Homo sapiens: one gene and its partners. The protein of the gene in region 1 purifies or fractionates together with the protein of each later gene. This does not show direct contact. Each region holds a gene or a part of one and is shown in the gene's direction. Other genes may lie near its edges. The genes, in order: TBL1X, USP44 and CACYBP.

Region 1 (7,124 bases):
CCCTGCCCCCTTTCATCTGCACTGCCTTCTTGGTTCCTTTTGGCTTGGTTGACATTCAGGTGGATTTATACCCTCAAGTTCATTCCCCCTGTGGACTCAATGGTGATGAGCCCTGTTCACTGGCAAGGGGTCCACTGAGATCACAGGCTTCCCAGGGACCTCATGTGAACCACATCCTCTCAGGGAAGGAAGGGAAATGGTGGACCCTGCGTAGAGCCAACCCGACGCCAAGCCCAGCCCCACAGCCCTAGATAGCTCTCCGGGAAGCACGCATCTCAGCACTAGTGTCCAAGAGTCTCCGTTCCTGAAATCCTCGCTAGAAATAGTAATGGGTGGATTTGTAAAAAGAACACATCAATTATCAAAACAATGACATGATCAGTTAGGTACAGCCTGTTGTCAGGAACTCACTGAACTGTTTCAACCCTTTTTTATAAATCAAAGAAATCCTTAGGACTTTTCTTTTTTTTTTTTTTTTTTGGATCGGAGTTTCACTCTCGTCACCCAGGCTGGAGTACAGTGATGCCATCTCGGCCCACTGCGACCTCTGCCTCCCGGGTTTGAGCGATTCTCCTGCCTCAGCCTCCCGAGTAGCTGGGATTACAGGTGCGCACCACCACAGCCGGCTAACTTTTGTATTTTTAGTACAAACGGGGTCTCACCATGTTGGCCAGGCTGGTGTTGAACTCCTGACCCCAGGCAATCTACCCACCTCGGCCTCCCAAAGTGCTGGGATTACAGGCATGAGCCACCGCGCCCGGCCAAGAAATCCTTAGGAATTTTCTTAAGAGAAATCTTAAAGCCCACTTTAATCTTTCTCCAAGTATAAAAATACTTATCTGTAATACTGCCGACACACACCTTTCTCAGTTCATGGAACACCACCCTTTAAGGGGCCCAATTGAGCAGAGGATTTGGGACAGCCCTCCTGGTCTCGGTGTTCAGATTTCTCCTGCCTGTCACCATAGTGAATCATGAGTGAAGGCTTATTCGACTCTTTCTCTCTTTTTTATTTTTTAAAATTAATTTTTGTAGAGACGAAGTCTCACTGTGTTGCCCAGGCTAGTCTTGAACTCTTGGGCTCAATCCGTCCTCCCGCCTCGGCCTCCCAAAGTGCTGGGATTACAGGGTGAGCCACCTCGCCTGGCCTTATTCAACTCTTTCAAAGGCCTCAACTTCCCCTACCTCTTAGATTTGTCAAGTTAATGCTGTTTTAAACCGGAAACCAATGGTCTGTGGTGTTTTCCATTACATGTATATTATGCATTTCTTCTTTCAAATGTCCAAAAATACGTACATTTTAATGTCATGGCATATTATTACATTTAATCATGAATTACAGTCAATTTAATTGCTACTGGGGTGGGTGTATTCATTATGTTGTATTCATTCAGGTCCTCCAAAGAACAGACACCAGAACAGGATTAGATGGGCGAGAGATTTATTGGGGGAAAGAGCTGTGATGGAAACAGGGAGGAAGGTAGGGGGAAGGGAGAATTCAGACCATAAGGCCAGTCTGACCCTGGGAAGGAGACGGGAAGGGTAGGAAGAGTCAGGGATGGCCCTTACAGGTCTGTAGAAAGTTTTGGTCGTGCTGATGGAGAGTCCATGAGCCACTTACCCACCAGATGAGTCTGAGTCTCAGCAGGTGACTGCCATGGTCTCCCGCCTCCATCAGTCCTCAGCTGGGTGCAGCCTCAGAATCCACGCAAATGTGGCAGATTCCGCAGGCATAAGTAATCAGGTTCACTCCTCGTGGTGGGAAGTCCTAGAGGCACATCTCCATGGCCCCCAGAGTCCTTACTGAAAACCCTTAAATTTCACCATGCTTGAAAATGTTCATGACGAAACGTCAGGGCCGGAGGAGCGCACATTCCACACCTGCATCTGTCGCAGGCGCCCCTTGCGTTGTAAGTGACAGCTGCTTTGCTTTGCAGAGTGGAAATCTTGTCCACAGCTACCGAGGCACTGGCGGCATCTTCGAGGTGTGCTGGAACGCCCGAGGAGACAAAGTGGGTGCCAGCGCGTCCGACGGCTCTGTAAGCAACACCTCTGGTTTGCTGGGGAGTGGGGTGTTGGGGGCAGCTGATGCCTAAGTGAGCTTCCAGGGCGTGTGCAGCATTCGTGTCCTGAAGGGCCTAGCCCAGTGCCAAAGGAAGCTTCTGGGCTGGATCCCATCGGAGTTGGTACCACATCTGGGAATGGCCTTCTCCTTGTCCCTTCCAGAGTGTCCTTCTAGTCAACATTTTCTCAGTCAAATTGGTGGTTCTCAACCAGGGTGATTCTGCACCTCTAAGGACATTAGACAATATCTGGAGCCATTTTAGGTTGTCACTACAGTCATGTGTCGCTTAATGACGGGAACGTTTTGGGAAATGTGTCATTAGGCACTTTTATCTTTGTCTGAACATCATAGAGTGACTGACACAAACCTAGATGATAATACCTGTCCCACACCGAGGCTGTGTGGTACAGCCTATTGCTCCCAGGCTACAAACCTGGACAGCGGGTGACCATACTGATTCCTGTAGGCAACCAGAACACAATGGTAAGCATTTGTGCGTCCGGATCTATCTAAACATAGAAAAGGTTCAGCAGATATATGGTTATAATCTTACAGGACCACTGCGGTCTGTGCGGTGCGTTGTTGCTGGAAACGTCATTATGTGACGCGTGACTGTGCTTAGATGAGGATGCTGCTAAACCTCCTACTGTGCACAGGGTGGCCACAATTGTCACCCATGCTGTGGCTGAGAAGCCCGGGCCTCTGGTGGCCATCCTGCAGGTCTCCTGGGCCCTCTTCTCTTCCCATGGGGCATCTGGATTTCTTATTTTCCCCTGGACTTGAGGTTGCCCTGACCTCTGGGGCAAGCGGCCGTTCTGGCTGAACGGCCAAGGGTCAGAGTAGTCCCCAAATGTTGTCAGAGGCTGTGTACTTGGGCTCGTATTGTCATCTGCCCCACGATTGCAGGTGTCCCTTCTGGGACCTCTGCCACTCTGTTAATTCCTATCATTACCCTTAACCTGGCCTTTCTGCTCTGTGCTGTTTGCTTCAGTTTGCTCGGTCCGATGTCCAGATGCCAGTCTGTTATGAGAGCTTCTCTGACCCTTCATGACGATGTTCCAATAAACTTTACTGACAAACATCGGTGGAGGGCTAGATTGGGCGTGGGGGCCGTAGCTTGCCGACTTCTCACTCTAAAGGCATCTTTGTATTGTCTCTCAAGATGACAGGTGCTTTATCTTTCCTTCCAGGTGTGTGTTTTGGATCTGCGGAAGTAACCACAAAATATTATCGAAAAAAGAAAAGAATTCTAATGACCAGCCGTGAATGTGTAGGGTTGCAGCTCTATTCTCCAAAACTGTAGGAACTTGACTTGCGTTAGAGTGTACTCTGAAACCAACTCGTCTCTGGCCGCAGGAGTCTATATGTTTTCGTAATCTTCATCAAGAAGTTTTTAAAAGGCAAGCAAAAACAGAAGCAAATCATATCAAACGGGGATAGAATGGTTTCCACTGAGGACATTCAGCCTGGGAAGGAGGAAGTCACCAGCTCGAGGCGTGTGGATTGGTTTCCACCCGGAACAGGCTCTGTGATGGCTGAATGGAAAGAAACGTAAAAAGCTGTGCCAAAAAAAAAGCAAAATGCTGTGATAAACCAAACAGGGAAGGGGGAAAAACCCTCCTCCTTGGGATTTTTTTTTTTTGTTTTCCCTAACAATTTGGACACTACAATTGCTCTCACAAAGGAGGTTCAAAGACCAGTTTGTACCGATGAAACGCGCAACTTTGTAATCCCAACACTTTCTATTTTCTAGAATCTTCTTTGTTCATTGGGTGGTTTTTCAGTCGGCTGGAATTCTATCTTCTGGGGGCCTTCCGTCTGAGATGGAAGCTGTCTTGGGCTTGTTGTCTCTTCCTTCTGTTGCTCCCTGCCCCTCCCCCTGCCTTTCCACTCTGTCTGGTGAGCTCTGCTTTTTCAGTGCACCATCAAGAGATGCAGCCCCGTGGACATGAAGACACAATCTCCCACGGACAGCTTTCCCCCTTCCGCCCTCTCCCACCCTCTCCTCCCCTTGCGCTCGCGCTCGCGCTCGCTTTCTCACTGGCGTGCTCTCTTTCTCTCTCTCTCTCCCTCTGTACCTTTCTCATAGTTGCTTCAGATCTTAGGTCTCAAGGGCACTTTGGCGCGTAGTAAGTGCTTTATGTAAGAAGGCAGGGCAGGGGGGCTTTTTACAGGAGAAAAAAAAATGACTTATAAGAGAAAGAGCCTGGAGTATTTTTGGAAAAAAAAATAATATTTTTATGTTAAAACAATTTTAAAATCTTAAAATGGCCATCAGACATAGAGAGCTTTGTGTGATTCATGTTTTAAAAAGAACCGAAGAAGCCACAGGCAGGGCCTGAGGGAGCCCCTGGCTTTCCCCTCAGCCTCAGGAAAGGTGGTCAGGAAAACTCTGGCTGGACAAGGGTCAGTCTTCGGGGTCAGCAGCGAGATTGCTCTGCAGCCAGTGAGGGAGGTCCCCGCCATGCCGGCTGGAAGAAGAACCTCGCATCTTTTGGTGTGTATGCACCTTGGCAGCCAGCAGGAAAGCAGCGAAGAGCCGCGCGCCCTCTGGCCTCAAGGGAGCATTGGCAGAACCATAAGGTACTGCAGAAGCCGTCGAAACCGACTGCTCGGCTGGATTAGGCGTGTTGGCTACATCTTTCCCACAACCGTATAACGACCGATGGTCATTTCTCCAAGAGCAGGCTTGGCGAGTCCTTGCAGAGCTGACATAGAGGCGCCCGCATGTCACTTAGTCTAACGCTGACAGAAATGAATGCAGAAGGAAGATTTTCAGTCCTGAACGTGAATTATAGAGGTAGAACGTCGCTAATAATTTCTGCCATCTTTATAATTTCTTTGTCTCACAGAAGACTAGGAGAAAGATCTTTTTTAAATAATCTTTTTGCTGTTTTTAAAAAATTAAACAAGGCTTTGTGTTCCTAGAAGAGCTTCATTTCAGTGAATCTGGTGACCTCCATCTGCTTGCTGTCATAACCCGACACGGACTTATTTTTGTCATTAGCAAGGGGGAAAAGGCCAAAGGACAAGGGCCTCTTCTCCCATTGGTTTTCCTGTGGGCAGAAGGGCTGAGGAAGATGGCCCAGCCCGTGGGGGCTGCTGGGTCACCAGCAGTGGGTAGGGTGCAATCTGGTGTGTGTTCCAGCAGTGAGACGGTGTTATTGTGAAGGTGGCATTCATCTGCGGAGCCAAAACCCAGCCATCGGGGAAGGGTCAGGGCTTCTGTGGAACTTGGAACGTGCCAGGACCACCTGCAAAAGCCAGGGTGCGTTGATCATTCTCAGATCATTGATTGGCCTCCACTTGGGTATGTGAATTATTCATGTCCCAGAAGACCAAAAAGTGCTCTGGTTCTGAGATGAGTATTTTATTCGTGTTCTGTTTCCGAAACACTTAGCAAAGAAGGTCACAGTGATGTGGAGTCGCCGCACCCATCTTTGAAGATAGCCAGTGTCCCTGGATGAGGTGATGATTTCCCGTCCCAAGGACTCTGTGAAGTTTAGAGTACAGTTTGTTGGGGTCCAAAAGACACCATCTCTACCCCACCCAAATAAAAATGCACTCATCTCTGTAGAACATCTGCTGTCAAAGGCCAGCCTGTCGTTAGGGCATGGCTTATGCTTGACAAACCAGTAACAACTGTGGGATGGCGATGGTGGGATGTGTCGCAAGCAATTCACTAGACAATCTTCACATGAATGTCGGTAGCCAGGGTCTCTCCCGAGGGATGGCTTTAGTCTTGATGAATGTGAACCATGTCGGAATTGTTAGGTAGAAACCTGGGCTGGGAGGCCTCGGACCCCAGGCTCCATCCCTGGCTTCCCCAGCCTGCGGCCGCAAGCAAAACCAAGCGCGAGATGCAGCTAGCACCCTTCATATCCATCCCCGTTCTCAGCGGGACAACACCATGGACAGCCGTTTTCAGAGCCTCCAGCATTTGCACACCACTACTCACCCTCTCTGCTGCTGGCATGTTGGTAGAGTCATCCCTGTAATCAAGAAATGGCCTGTGGAATGTTATTGTTCAACGTTGTTTACAGCTCTTAAAACATGGTGAGGAATGCCTAAGTCTTAGTGACCAAACGTGACCTTGAAAGCAGACATAGCATGACAGACCTTCCTAGAGTGTTTGGTCGGGTTCACAGTGACCGAGAGTCAGGTCCAGCACACACCTGGGAAAGGGATGCTGCCCCAAGGGGGACCAAAAGGGCCGGACGTTACAGGGTGAAACCCTCTGACCCCTCGCGACACCGTAGGACTTGACTTTTGTTTAGTCTTTCTAAGAAATAGATCATGGAGCCAAGTGAAGTGCACTTTGTCAAATGTAAGGGTCTGCTTTGTTCTTGTTGCTTTTCTGTTTTTTAACCTTTTGTTCCGCCATTTAAAAAAAGAAAAAAAAAAAGCTTATGTTTCTTGTCAAATGCAGAAATGTTCCTTCCGCCACTCACTGAAGTTTTGCATTCTGGCTTGTGCAGTTTTTATTGTCTGTGTCAGACGTACAGCCAGACATGTTCTCTATTGGCATTTTTCCGATTCTGTTCAGATGACAGCGACCGCCTTTTCATTCCCCCCGCCACCTGTACTCACCCTCACGCTCTTTGAAGAAAAAAAAAAAAATCACCTTGTGTGTTGTAGCTCATTTGTTTCAAGAGAGAATCAACAGATCATATTCAGTGTCTTGAATAAATTGCTCTATTTTGATATTAGAGAACTTGGTGGGTGTGCTTTCTTCCTCTCGCTCTGGAACTCTTGGGCCCACGTTGACTGAATGACTGAAGACAGAGCTCTGTATTTTCTCCAGAAGGAAGTACCTTGAGCCTCTGTTTAGGATTGCTGTGTGAGATAGGGAGCTGGGAGCAGAACGCAGTGACATGGCAGTCACAGCAGCCGCCTGCTGTTCTGAAAGGTGGTTCTGTCCAGGGATCATGTTTTTTAGTGTGTTTCCTTTTCATTCTTTATTTCAGGCTGGCTGTTGGAGAAAGACAAAGCAAATGAATGTTCTCTCATCAGCGGATTGGTTGACCGGGAGTTTGAGTTCCCGAATTACCCCCGAGTA
Region 2 (7,959 bases), on another chromosome or scaffold:
GCATCCCATCACACCAACACAACAAAGGCCTACTGCGTAGGTTCTCTTGTAGGAATAAGTCTAGTCTTAATTACCTGTAGACTGATATTTAACAAAACAATAAGGGGAAAATTATTCACTATGAGGCTAGTCAGAATTATAATTGTCTTACACAGTTTAATTTTGTGACTAATGATAAGACCACATTTTTGTCTTAAAAAAATTTTTTTTTTTTTTGAGACAGAGTTTTGCTCTTGTCGCCCAGGCTGGAGTACAGTAGCATGATCTCGGCTCACTGCAACCTCTGCCTCCCAGGTTCAAGTGATTTTCCTGTCTCAGCCTTCCGAGTAGCTGGGATTACAAGCACCCACCACCACACCCAGCTAATTTTTGTATTTTTAGTAGAGACGGTGTTTCGCCAGGTTGGCCAGGCTTGTCTGGAACTCCTGACCTCAGGTGATCCACCTTCCTCAGCCTCCCAAAGTGCTGGGATTACAGGCGTGAGCCACTGCACCCGGCTCTTTTATCTTAAATTTAATACAATGTTATGGGCATAAGCAAATAAATGTTTAAGTCATCCTTTATTACTACCATTGATTTTTAAGAAGAGATTATTTCATAGGCATTTAATGGTAAATTTATATAAATTTCCTTCTGTGATCATTCCTGTGGCATTTTGGAGTTTTCATCCAAACAGACAAAATAAAACTTTATACTTGTGAAAAACATCCCATTACATGTCATATTTCAAGCTTTTTTTCCCCCCCCTACAATGCTTGGCTCATCCTTCATTATTTTTCTAAAGATTAGGAGCCGCATATTTAGGACATTTAAAAAAATCCAAGGACCAGACACAGTGGCTCACACCTATAATTCCAGCACTTTGGGAGGCCGAGGCGGGTGAATCACCTGAGGTCAGGAGTTTGCGACCAGTCTGGCCAACATGGTGAAACCCCGTCTCTACTAAAAATAAAAAAATTAGCCGGGTGTGGTGGCAGGTGCCTGTAATCTCAGCTACTCAGGAGGCTGAGGCAGGAGAATCACGTGAACCCAGGAGGCGAAGGTTGCAGTGAGCCGAGATTGTGTCATTGCACTCCAGCCTGGGTGACAAGAGTGAGACTCCATCTCAAAAAACATCCAAGAAATTAATATCAAGTATTCATTATGCTTAATTCTTTAAACACTAATTTCAAAACCAAAAATAAAATGAAATAGATAGGGACTATCTAACTTACACACAACCTCCCTTCCCCCAAAGAGTTTCCCTCAGAAATGTGGTTTTCAAGGCTGGGTGCAGTGGCTCACACCTGTAATCCCAGCACTTTGGGAAGTCCAGGTGGGTGGATCATTTGAGCTCAAGAGTCCAAGACCAGCCTGGACAACATAGTGAAACCCCATCTCTACAAAAAATACAAAAATTAGCTGGGTGTAGTGGCATGTGCCTGTAGTCCCAGCTACTTGGGAGGCACAGGTGTGAGGATTGCTTGAGCCTGGTAGGTCAAGGCTGCAGTGAGCTGAGATCACGCCACTGCACTCCTGGGTGGCAGGAAAAAAAATGTGGTTTTTCTAGGAGTTAATCACTGGTTAGCTAAGGAAAAGAGGCTTACAAACACTATTTACAGATGACTAAATCAATGATTGCTACCACGAGGTACCTTGGCCTAAAAAGAAGCAACCTTAAGATGGCAGAGAAAAGCAGGTTGATCATCCTAGCTCTTACACATGAAGAATTGTTAGCTCTTTTTATTGTATGCATACATCCTGAATAGACAGTTTGTGGTTTCTTTTAAATGATGCAATATCACGTTGTATTAAGGGGGCCTTCTATTTACTTTTCTTATCTTTTACAACCCAGGAGCGACACTGCAGGATTTCAATTTCCAAATGGTTTGGCAAGATGTAAATAATTATACAAATAGCTACAGTTATCCATCTACACTTTCCTCATTCTATTATTTTTTTTTAAAAAAAAGAAATGGGTTTAAAAACATGTATAGAGTATAAAAACAAAACTTGGGTACCCCAATAATCTCTTCCTCATGAAAAGTTACTAGTATCTTTTTGGCATGGTTTACTAAAACTTTAAGAGTTGAAATTTCCACCTGTAGTGCCTTTTCTTTTCTCCCCCTCTCTCCCTCTGCCTTTCCAGATCCTTTCCCTCCCTACTATGAGAGAGGAAGACTAAAATAGTATTGCCATGTTTCTCAGAGTAATAGAATTAATTTTAACCTTTATAGCACTTGTCCTTGAATTGACTATTACTTTAGTACAGAAGTAAAACTTGATTTAAGGGAATACTGCTTATCTATCCTGAGTGAGGTTCTGTATTAATTGCTATAGGGGTTGTAAATATGAACAAAAGTCTGTTTCTGACTTCAAAGAACTTTACAGGGTAATAGTAAACCTAAGAGAGAAATAATGATAAACACACTGACTTTTCTCCTTACAGTTTAGGCAGGTTCCATGGACAAAACCTCATTTGGTCCTTAAAACATTATTGTGAAGAAGATAGGACAGATACTATTTTCCAAACTCTACAAATGAGATAGAAATTTTAAAAATCCTGAAAGGATTGCAAATAACTAGATGGACAAATTGTTATTATAGCTAAATGAGTTCTAATTATATATGTGCATATGAGTATATATATGTGTGTCTGCGTGTATTGTGTGTGTGTGTGTGTGTGTGTATTCTGCTGTCATCACCTCCCATAGCTTATCCTTGGAAAGGAAGTACCTTGGCTTAGCAAAATATCTATCCCACTGATCTGTCACAATGTTTAAAATGTCATTTTAGAAATTCCAAACTCTGGGTGTCTACAGGAGGTAGAACAGTCTGAGAGAGAAATGGAAAAAAAAATACTAAACACTAATAATACAAAGTAGATAACTTTACTTCATAACTGAGCTCCTTAGATAATGACAGGTTGGGGCCAGGCATGGTGGCTCATGCTCGTAACCCCAGCACTTTGGGAGGCCGGGGCACAAGGATTGCTTGAGGCCAGGAGTTTGAGACCAGCCTGGGTAGCATAGGGAGAACCCCCCTCCACCCCCACATCTCTACAAAAAATCAATTAGCAGAAGTTGTGTCGCATGCCTGTGGTCCCAGTTACACAGGAAGCTGAGGTGGGAAGATTGCTTGAGCCTGAGAGGTCAAGGCTGCAGTGAGCCATGATCACGCTACTGCACTCCAGCCTGGTGACAAAACCCTGTCTCCATTTTAAAAATAAATAAAAAGAGAGAATGAAAGGTTGGTGTACCTGTCCTGAACAAAATGGGAAGAGTTTTGATGGGAAGGAAGAGAGACAGACTGCAGTAAAGCCCTGGACACAGCATCCTGAGGATCCCTGTAAAAGTGAGTATAGAGTGGGCCAGGCGTGGTGGCTCACGCCTGTAATCCCAGCACCTGGGGAGGCCGAGGCGGGCAGATCACGAGGTCAGGAGTTGGAGACCAGCCTGACCAACATGGTGAAACCCCGTCTCTACTAAAAATACAAAAATTAACCAGGCGTGGTGGTGCATACCTGTAATCCCAGGTACTCAGGAGGCTGAGGCAGGGGAACTGCTTGAACCCGGGAGGCGGAGGTTGCAGTGAGCCGAGATCACGCCACGGCACTCCAACCTGGGTGACAGAGCGAGACTCTGTCTCAAAAAAAAAAAAAAAAAGAAAAGAAAAGAAAAGAAAAACTGAGTATAGGGTGGAGGTGGAGTGGATGTTTATGTTTAAAAAGGGGGAGAAATGGACTCACTTCACAATTTTGCTTCCATTTATACCTAAACCCTGGGGCTCAGGGTTTCAGTTTCCAGTAGGCCTATGTTGGAAATTCACCTGCAAGGTACAAGTTTCCCTGACAGACCACCAAATAAACAATGGTCTTTTAAAAACAAATCAACTTTGGTACCATCTACTCAGCTGGCATTTACCTTCCTTACCTGCTACCAACCTCATTCTTAGAATTAAAGAAAAAAGGCGAATTCTAAAGCCCCTTCTACTCACTTTCCTCCACTAAGGCCATAGCTTACATCTGCTGCTCTTTTTTCCATACTCCTTTTTTCTCAACTCCTTTCTTTCATATTTGCCAGAAATTTAAGGTCGTTTGGGTTCCTCTCATTTAAAAAGTTCAACTGAAGTGTGTTGCTACACCTTAATCAAAAGTTTATGGCTGAGTTATTTAGCGTTTCTTTACCCACTTCCTCTGCTCAATCCTTCATCTCCTCATAACCATTGAAATGAATGCTATGAATATCTCAATGCTTAGCATGGTGCCAGGCATTTAGGTGTTGAAAAAAATGTTAAGCGAATATTAGTTATTAGGTAAGAGCATTGTCTGTAAAACTCTGAAAAGTCTTAAAAGTGATTCCTAAAATTTCACAAGCTCATAAATTCTTTAGTCTGCAATTATGATTCCTGAAATATTCTTCGATTCATGAAAGACTGGACTAGGAAATTCTAAAAATCGACATAAAGCATAAAAAGCCACTCTGAGGTTTATGAAATTTACAATGTTTTGTCTTCTTTTAATTCATTCGTACTTTTCTCTCAGGATACAAAGGGCAAAACTGTTTGTGTAGTAACTCAGAATTGAGTAGTTACACATCCATTAGGTTTCAGAATCGTTAAAATTTTATCTGGTTTAGGAAACTGCTTACCTTGGAAGGGCAAATTGCCATTTCTCTCCATCTGGGGATCAGGGAAGCAAGGGAAGCCCCCCTAAACATCACTTCCACGCTCCTATATTATGCTAAGGAACTTCTGGTTGATTCATTAGGCATTTCAGCAGTGTTTTTGGCCGGTACTAGGAACTGTGGAGAGGTATAGAAAGGGAGCAAGTGCACAGTCCCGGCCCCCAAAGAGGTTACGATGCAAATAGAAGCAGGCTCAGAACTCGGAACAAAAGCAGTGACTGCATAATAATGCACTGCTGGGGGTGGGGGATGGGGATCTGCACGCCCGGTTTGTGACTTCAGGAAAGCAGTTTCCAGGAGGTGAGAGTTTAAGCCAAACCTGAAAGAGGTTGATTTGTAATGATTTGCAGGGGGGCACTGGAGGCAGCCGCCAGGACTTTTCACTTAGGAGATCAGCATTTGCCCTGATGGAAACTGGGCGATCCTGCAGGGACTGACCTCTGAGTTATCCAAAGGCCGACCTGGGGAAAGACTGATTTTGAGGTTTTAATAGGTAAGTTTGGGGACATCATTGATGAAGGTGGGCAGGGAAGGAGGCTTTTTTCTTTTCTTTTTTTTAATGTTACAGTAAAAAGCTTAGATTCGATGAGACGGGTTAAAAAACAAATAGGAAAATTTAAGGAGAAGAATGACTATGATTGCTATGTAAAAATAAAATTGCAATAGAGAGGTTCTGGAGCTCAGGAAATGAGCTAGAGCATGCTATAATTTAGGCCTAGATAGTGAAGATCATGAATAAAATGGTAGCTGAGGAAATTTCAAAGTTGAATAAGTAGTAATAAGTATGAAGAAAAAGCTAAACTACAAACATCTGCTCTTTAATTACTAACACTAGTAATGAGAATTTGTCTCCAGCCTCTTCCCTTCCCACTCCGCACCTCTTCCTAGCTTACATCATTGTATTAAGGCATTTTATTGAAGACACTATTCAGCACTCTCCACCTATGCCTTACACAGCTTGCCTTTGCTTTTCTTCCCATTTCACTTTTTCTCTTCATTTATTCACATCATTTTAGTCCTTAAAAGACCCCGCCCAATTACTAGATCAGAGGGAGGCAACTAAGACTCTTCCTATCTCCCAAACGACCTTCCAGAATGGTTTTATGGCATTATAATAGGAAAGCAAGAGTTTTGATTTTTCTATTATTAATATTTTGCTTTCAAGGAATTACAGGAAAAACCATATTGCATGCCAGAAATACTTAAATTTTAAATATTTCATCTTAAGAGATGCCCTCATGTAATGCTTTTAATGCATTTGAGAAATTCAGGTGGTGGGCAAAAGTACAACATAGAGGTTAGATGTTTTGAGTGGGAGAAGTGCACTGGGGTCATTATTGAATCAGAATTATTATGCACTTAAATATATAGAAAAAAGAACAAAATGAGTATTAAACTATGCAAATTCATCCCTTTAATCTTTATTTGCATGACTACATTTTATGCAGTTGTAACCTTAATGTACATATTTGGTATTTTTTTCAAACATGAATTGATTAGACATTGTTGCTATTTTGTATCTATTTTGTTAACATAAGAACTTCCTGTGTTATATCAGATTTTTTTTTTTTTTTTTTTTTTCTGAGACGGAGTTTCGCTCTTGTTGCTGCCCAGGCTTGAGTGCAATTGTGGATCTAGGCTCACCACAACCTCCGCCTCCTGGGTTCAAGCGATTGTCCTGTCTCAGCCTACCGAGTAGCTGGGATTACAGGTGCCCGCCACCAGGCCCGGATAATTTTTGTATTTTTAGTAGAGACAGGGTTTCACTATGTTGGCCAGGCTGCTCTCGAACTCCTGACCTCAGGTGATCCACCCGCCTTGGCCTCCCAAAGTGCTGTGATTACAGGCGTGAGCCACTGCGCCCGGCCTCTATGTCAGACCTTAATTAGCCATTTCCTGTTAGTTAGAATCCTGTGCCGCTCCTTCTTGCCTTTTACGGTGTTTGGATAATATGCTGTGAATACCTTTGTGCACTCATTTCTTTATTCAGGTCATACCACTGAAACATACTCCCCAGAATAAAACTGATGATGAAAAGATAGGAACAATTTTATACCTTGTCTTACATATTGCAAGATTTTGCACTGCATTGATGTATTGTTAACTTTGCATGTTTGTCTTCTTTTTAAGCTCTCCTTGGAGAGTTTTTAAATTTTCAGTACACTCCACAGGGTGGCCAAAGTAGAACTGCTTTGTCATTGAGTATAGGTTCAGTTAAAAACAACAATCTGGCTCAGAGTTGAACACAAAGAATCCAATAAATATTAATGGGTTAATTTTCAGGTACCTTAGCCTTGACTTTCCTGTTTTCCAGATTTCCCCTCCTTTTCCTTTTCGGTATGTACTTCATTATTTAAATGGGCAATTTCGGGTTAGGCAGTTCTAGATAGCGGTTCCCTTCCTGTGCCCGTTCTGGAACCTCTCTCGCCCTTCTGCGGTGCGAAAAAACCCAATTCACAGCCGTCATCGCCACTGAAGTTACACCCAGGGGTCGCTTCAAGAAGGAAACGTTTTCTTTAAGAATTTCTATGCCAGTGAATTGGGGAAGGTTTTAAAGATAACGGAGTTTGCCACGCGTTTCTGCCAAACAATTCGACGTTGTGTAAATCGCAGAAATTCCAGGAAGGACTAACGACGTCCGTGGATGATTCTGCGGCTCACAGGCACACAGGACACGCTGGGTTTACCCTCCCGTGTCCCGACGGCACTACAGGTGCGAAGCCCGCCCGGGGAGGCAGTGCTTGTTGTTCGCGCAGACCCACTTGCGGCGCCGGGGACCGTCCGTGGCCCCGACCCCCCCACGAGGCGCGGAAGGCGGCCACCGGCAGGTTCTCGGTGCCCGCGAAGAGCCGGCGCAGGGGTGGGGCTGTGGGAGGGGGCGGGGCCTGCTGCGCGTCACGGCTGTCGTAGCCGCCGCACCGGGTCGTCGCGGCCGCCGAACCGGGGGGCGGGGGGCCGGGGTGAGCGCTAAGATGGCCGCCCCGGCTCGGGCTGGTGAGTGTGCGCGAGGGCGCGCGGCCGCGGCGATTGGCGGAGTGAGGACCCCTGCGGGAGCGGACGTGCGACGGCAGCCCCCGGGGCCGGGAGGCACCTGGGGGCCTATTCTCGCCGCGCAGGGCGCTGGGGGGTCCTGAGAGAGGGAGAGCCTGGGGCTGCGGGCGCGCGGAAGGGAATGAGCCGAGGGGCGCGCGGCGGCGACGCGTCCGGCGAATTTTGAATTGCCCCCCTGGGAAGTTTCGGTGGGTTCTGCGGCGCTCCGACCCTGTCCCGGCGGCAGCCTCAGAGTGCCCGGAGA
Region 3 (2,705 bases), on another chromosome or scaffold:
CCCATTGTTGTATATGTTTTCTTTTTAAAGGAAGCCCTCCTATGACACTGAAACAGATCCTAGTGAGGGATTGATGAATGTTCTAAAGAAAATTTATGAAGATGGAGACGATGATATGAAGCGAACCATTAATAAAGCCTGGGTGGAATCAAGAGAGAAGCAAGCCAAAGGAGACACGGAATTTTGAGACTTTAAAGTCGTTTTGGGAACTGTGATGTGATGTGGAAATACTGATGTTTCCAGTAAGGGAATATTGGTGAGCTGCATATATAAATTTGACAGATAGCTATTTACATAGCCTTCTAAGTAAAGGCAATGAATTCTCCATTTCCTACTGGAGGATTTATTTAAATAAAATATGCTTATTAAACACTCCTGCAAAGATGGTTTTATTAGTACCCTGGTCATTTTGTTCAAGGAAGGGTTATATTGCATTCTCACGTGAAATATAAAAAGCAAGTCTTGCCCAATAAAAACGCTACATTGTGTGTATTTTTTGTTCAGCTAAGAATTGGAAAAGTATTTGCTTGCCTTTTAAGTTACTGACATCAGCTTCCACCAGTGTAAAAATTGAGTAAAACCTGAAGTTTTGCATAAAATGCAAATCGGTGCCTGTGCTTGAAGGTTGCTGTAGAGCATCTGACCCCTTATTACCACCTTAAGCAATGTATATGCCATGCATTACCATGCACTAATTCAATCACAGGTGTTTCTATCTAGATTTAAATATATTTGTCAATGAATGTGGAATAGAAAATCTAAACATGACAATAATAGACATATCTTTGTATGGTACCAGTTAGTTTTGCCGTGGATCAGATGGTTTATAAAAGTAATAACCATAAAGCAAAAAATAATTTGAAAGCCCGTCTATTCCTATGCTCAATAAAGTTAAGTTTTTCTTCATTAGAACAGTTTTATGATTTATTTGTCTAGGAGTATGTCAGAAAAATCAGGCTTTTAGTAGGAATTACTCCTATTCCCCCTGAAGTCAGGACCAGTGCCTGTGATCTCCATTACTTTATTTTCCTGGAGGTATTAGCCAACACAGTTAGATCAGAGAAAGCAATTGAAGCCAGGCATGAAGGCTGGCGCCCGTAATCCCAGCTACTAAGGCTGGAGGATCACTTCAGCCCAGGAGTTTAAGGCTGCAGTGAGCTATGATGATGCCACTGTACTGCAGCTTGGGTAACAGATTGAGAACCTGTCTCATTAAAAAAAAAAAAAAAAAAAAAGCCGTTAGACACACAGGAAAAATCCAGAAGGGTAAACTAAACTAAAGCTACAATTAATATGGGAATTTGGAAGAAGTGGTAGGATTTAAAATACAGAAACAGTTTATGTATAGGATAGCTATAAGTAAATACTGAAACACATTATGCCTCTGTAATTGGGGTTGACACATGAACAGAATAGCAGACACAATGCATATGAAAGTTACAGAATATGGTAAAAGTGGGGTAAAGATGGGTTTTTAATGATACTAAGATAACTGAAAATAGGCATATAGATATATTCCAAGCCGCCTGACGATCTAATTGTAAAAAGTAAAGCATACAAATACTAGAAGAAAATGGAGGAAAACGACATTATATGTGACTTAAAACCTAGAAGAAATAAATAAAACTATTGATCAATTTTAACTACATAAAAATGTTTATAGGACAAGAAAAACCCCACCATAACCCAAGGCAAACAATGTATTGACAGGATTCCAATAATTAAGAATACTTCATACAAAAAGAAATGTAAATGACCTTTAACATGTAAAGATGCTCACCTTGTTCAGAAGAGAATAAACCAGTGTTTTTACCTTTCACTTGAAAAAGAAGTATAAAAACAACTGTATTGAGTTGAGGCTGTGGAGAAATAAGGACACATATATGGGAATGGAATGCAAAAGTTAAACTTTGGTTAACAAGAATATTTGGGCAGGTGCAGTGGCTCACACCTGTAATCCCAACACCTTGGGAGGCCAAGGTGGGCGGATCACTTGAGGTCAGGAGTTCAAGACCATCTGGCCAACATGGTGAAACCCTGTCTCTACTGAAAATAAAAAAAACTAGCTGGGCATGGTGGCAGATGCCTGTAACTCCAGCTACTCGGGAGACTGAAGGACAAGAATCACTTGAACCTGGGAAGCCGAGGGACGAGAATCACTGGAACCCGGGAGGCAGAGGTTGCAGTGAGCTGAGATTGTGCCACTGCACTCCAGCCTGGGTGACAGAGTAAGACTCTTGTCTCAGAAAGAGTATTTGGTAATAACCATCAGAATGACATATTCATTTATCCTTTGACCCAGAATTTTAACTTCTTTCTGGGCTCTGAAAGGTACATTTAGAAAAATTTGGAATGCTATATGCAAAAGATTAAAAATACTCGTGTCTATTTAACAGGAATGTATTATGGTGCATCCACATGAGGGAGTACTTAAGTCACAAAACAATGAAGAGTTCTATATAACGTAAAATGGTCTCCAGGATAGAGTAAGTGGAAAAGCAAAGTGCAGAACATTTATGGTATACCCACTACATTTGTGTAAGAAAGGGTGAGAAATGTGAATGTATGCACATAGGTGTATTTGCTTATGTTTCAAAAAGAAACGAGTAAACCCAAAGCTAATAAAAATTGTTAGCAGGGGAAGGAAGGAGATGAGGATGGAAGCTATTCTGTGAATTTAACTTTTTCTAGAGTTTTGACTTTAG

The links.
Region 2: the proteins of TBL1X (region 1) and USP44 purify together in Homo sapiens (affinity purification with mass spectrometry; 2 studies listed by BioGRID, with this or other methods). This does not show direct contact.
Region 3: the proteins of TBL1X (region 1) and CACYBP purify together in Homo sapiens (affinity purification with western blotting; 2 studies listed by BioGRID, with this or other methods). This does not show direct contact.

The regions. Positions count from the first base shown.
Region 1 is NC_000023.11:9,712,965-9,720,088, forward strand, and holds the end of TBL1X (F-box-like/WD repeat-containing protein TBL1X), read left to right. Parts: intron 1-1,937; coding exon 1,938-2,039; intron 2,040-3,255; coding exon 3,256-3,282; 3' UTR 3,283-6,776; downstream 6,777-7,124. UniProt on the Homo sapiens protein: F-box-like protein involved in the recruitment of the ubiquitin/19S proteasome complex to nuclear receptor-regulated transcription units. Plays an essential role in transcription activation mediated by nuclear receptors.
Region 2 is NC_000012.12:95,548,470-95,556,428, reverse strand, and holds the start of USP44 (ubiquitin carboxyl-terminal hydrolase 44), read left to right. Parts: upstream 1-4,952; 5' UTR 4,953-5,157; intron 5,158-6,075; exon of another isoform or gene 6,076-7,377; intron 7,378-7,626; exon of another isoform or gene 7,627-7,903; intron 7,904-7,959.
Region 3 is NC_000001.11:175,009,893-175,012,597, forward strand, and holds the end of CACYBP (calcyclin-binding protein), read left to right. Parts: intron 1-30; coding exon 31-187; 3' UTR 188-2,135; downstream 2,136-2,705. UniProt on the Homo sapiens protein: May be involved in calcium-dependent ubiquitination and subsequent proteasomal degradation of target proteins. Probably serves as a molecular bridge in ubiquitin E3 complexes. Participates in the ubiquitin-mediated degradation of beta-catenin (CTNNB1).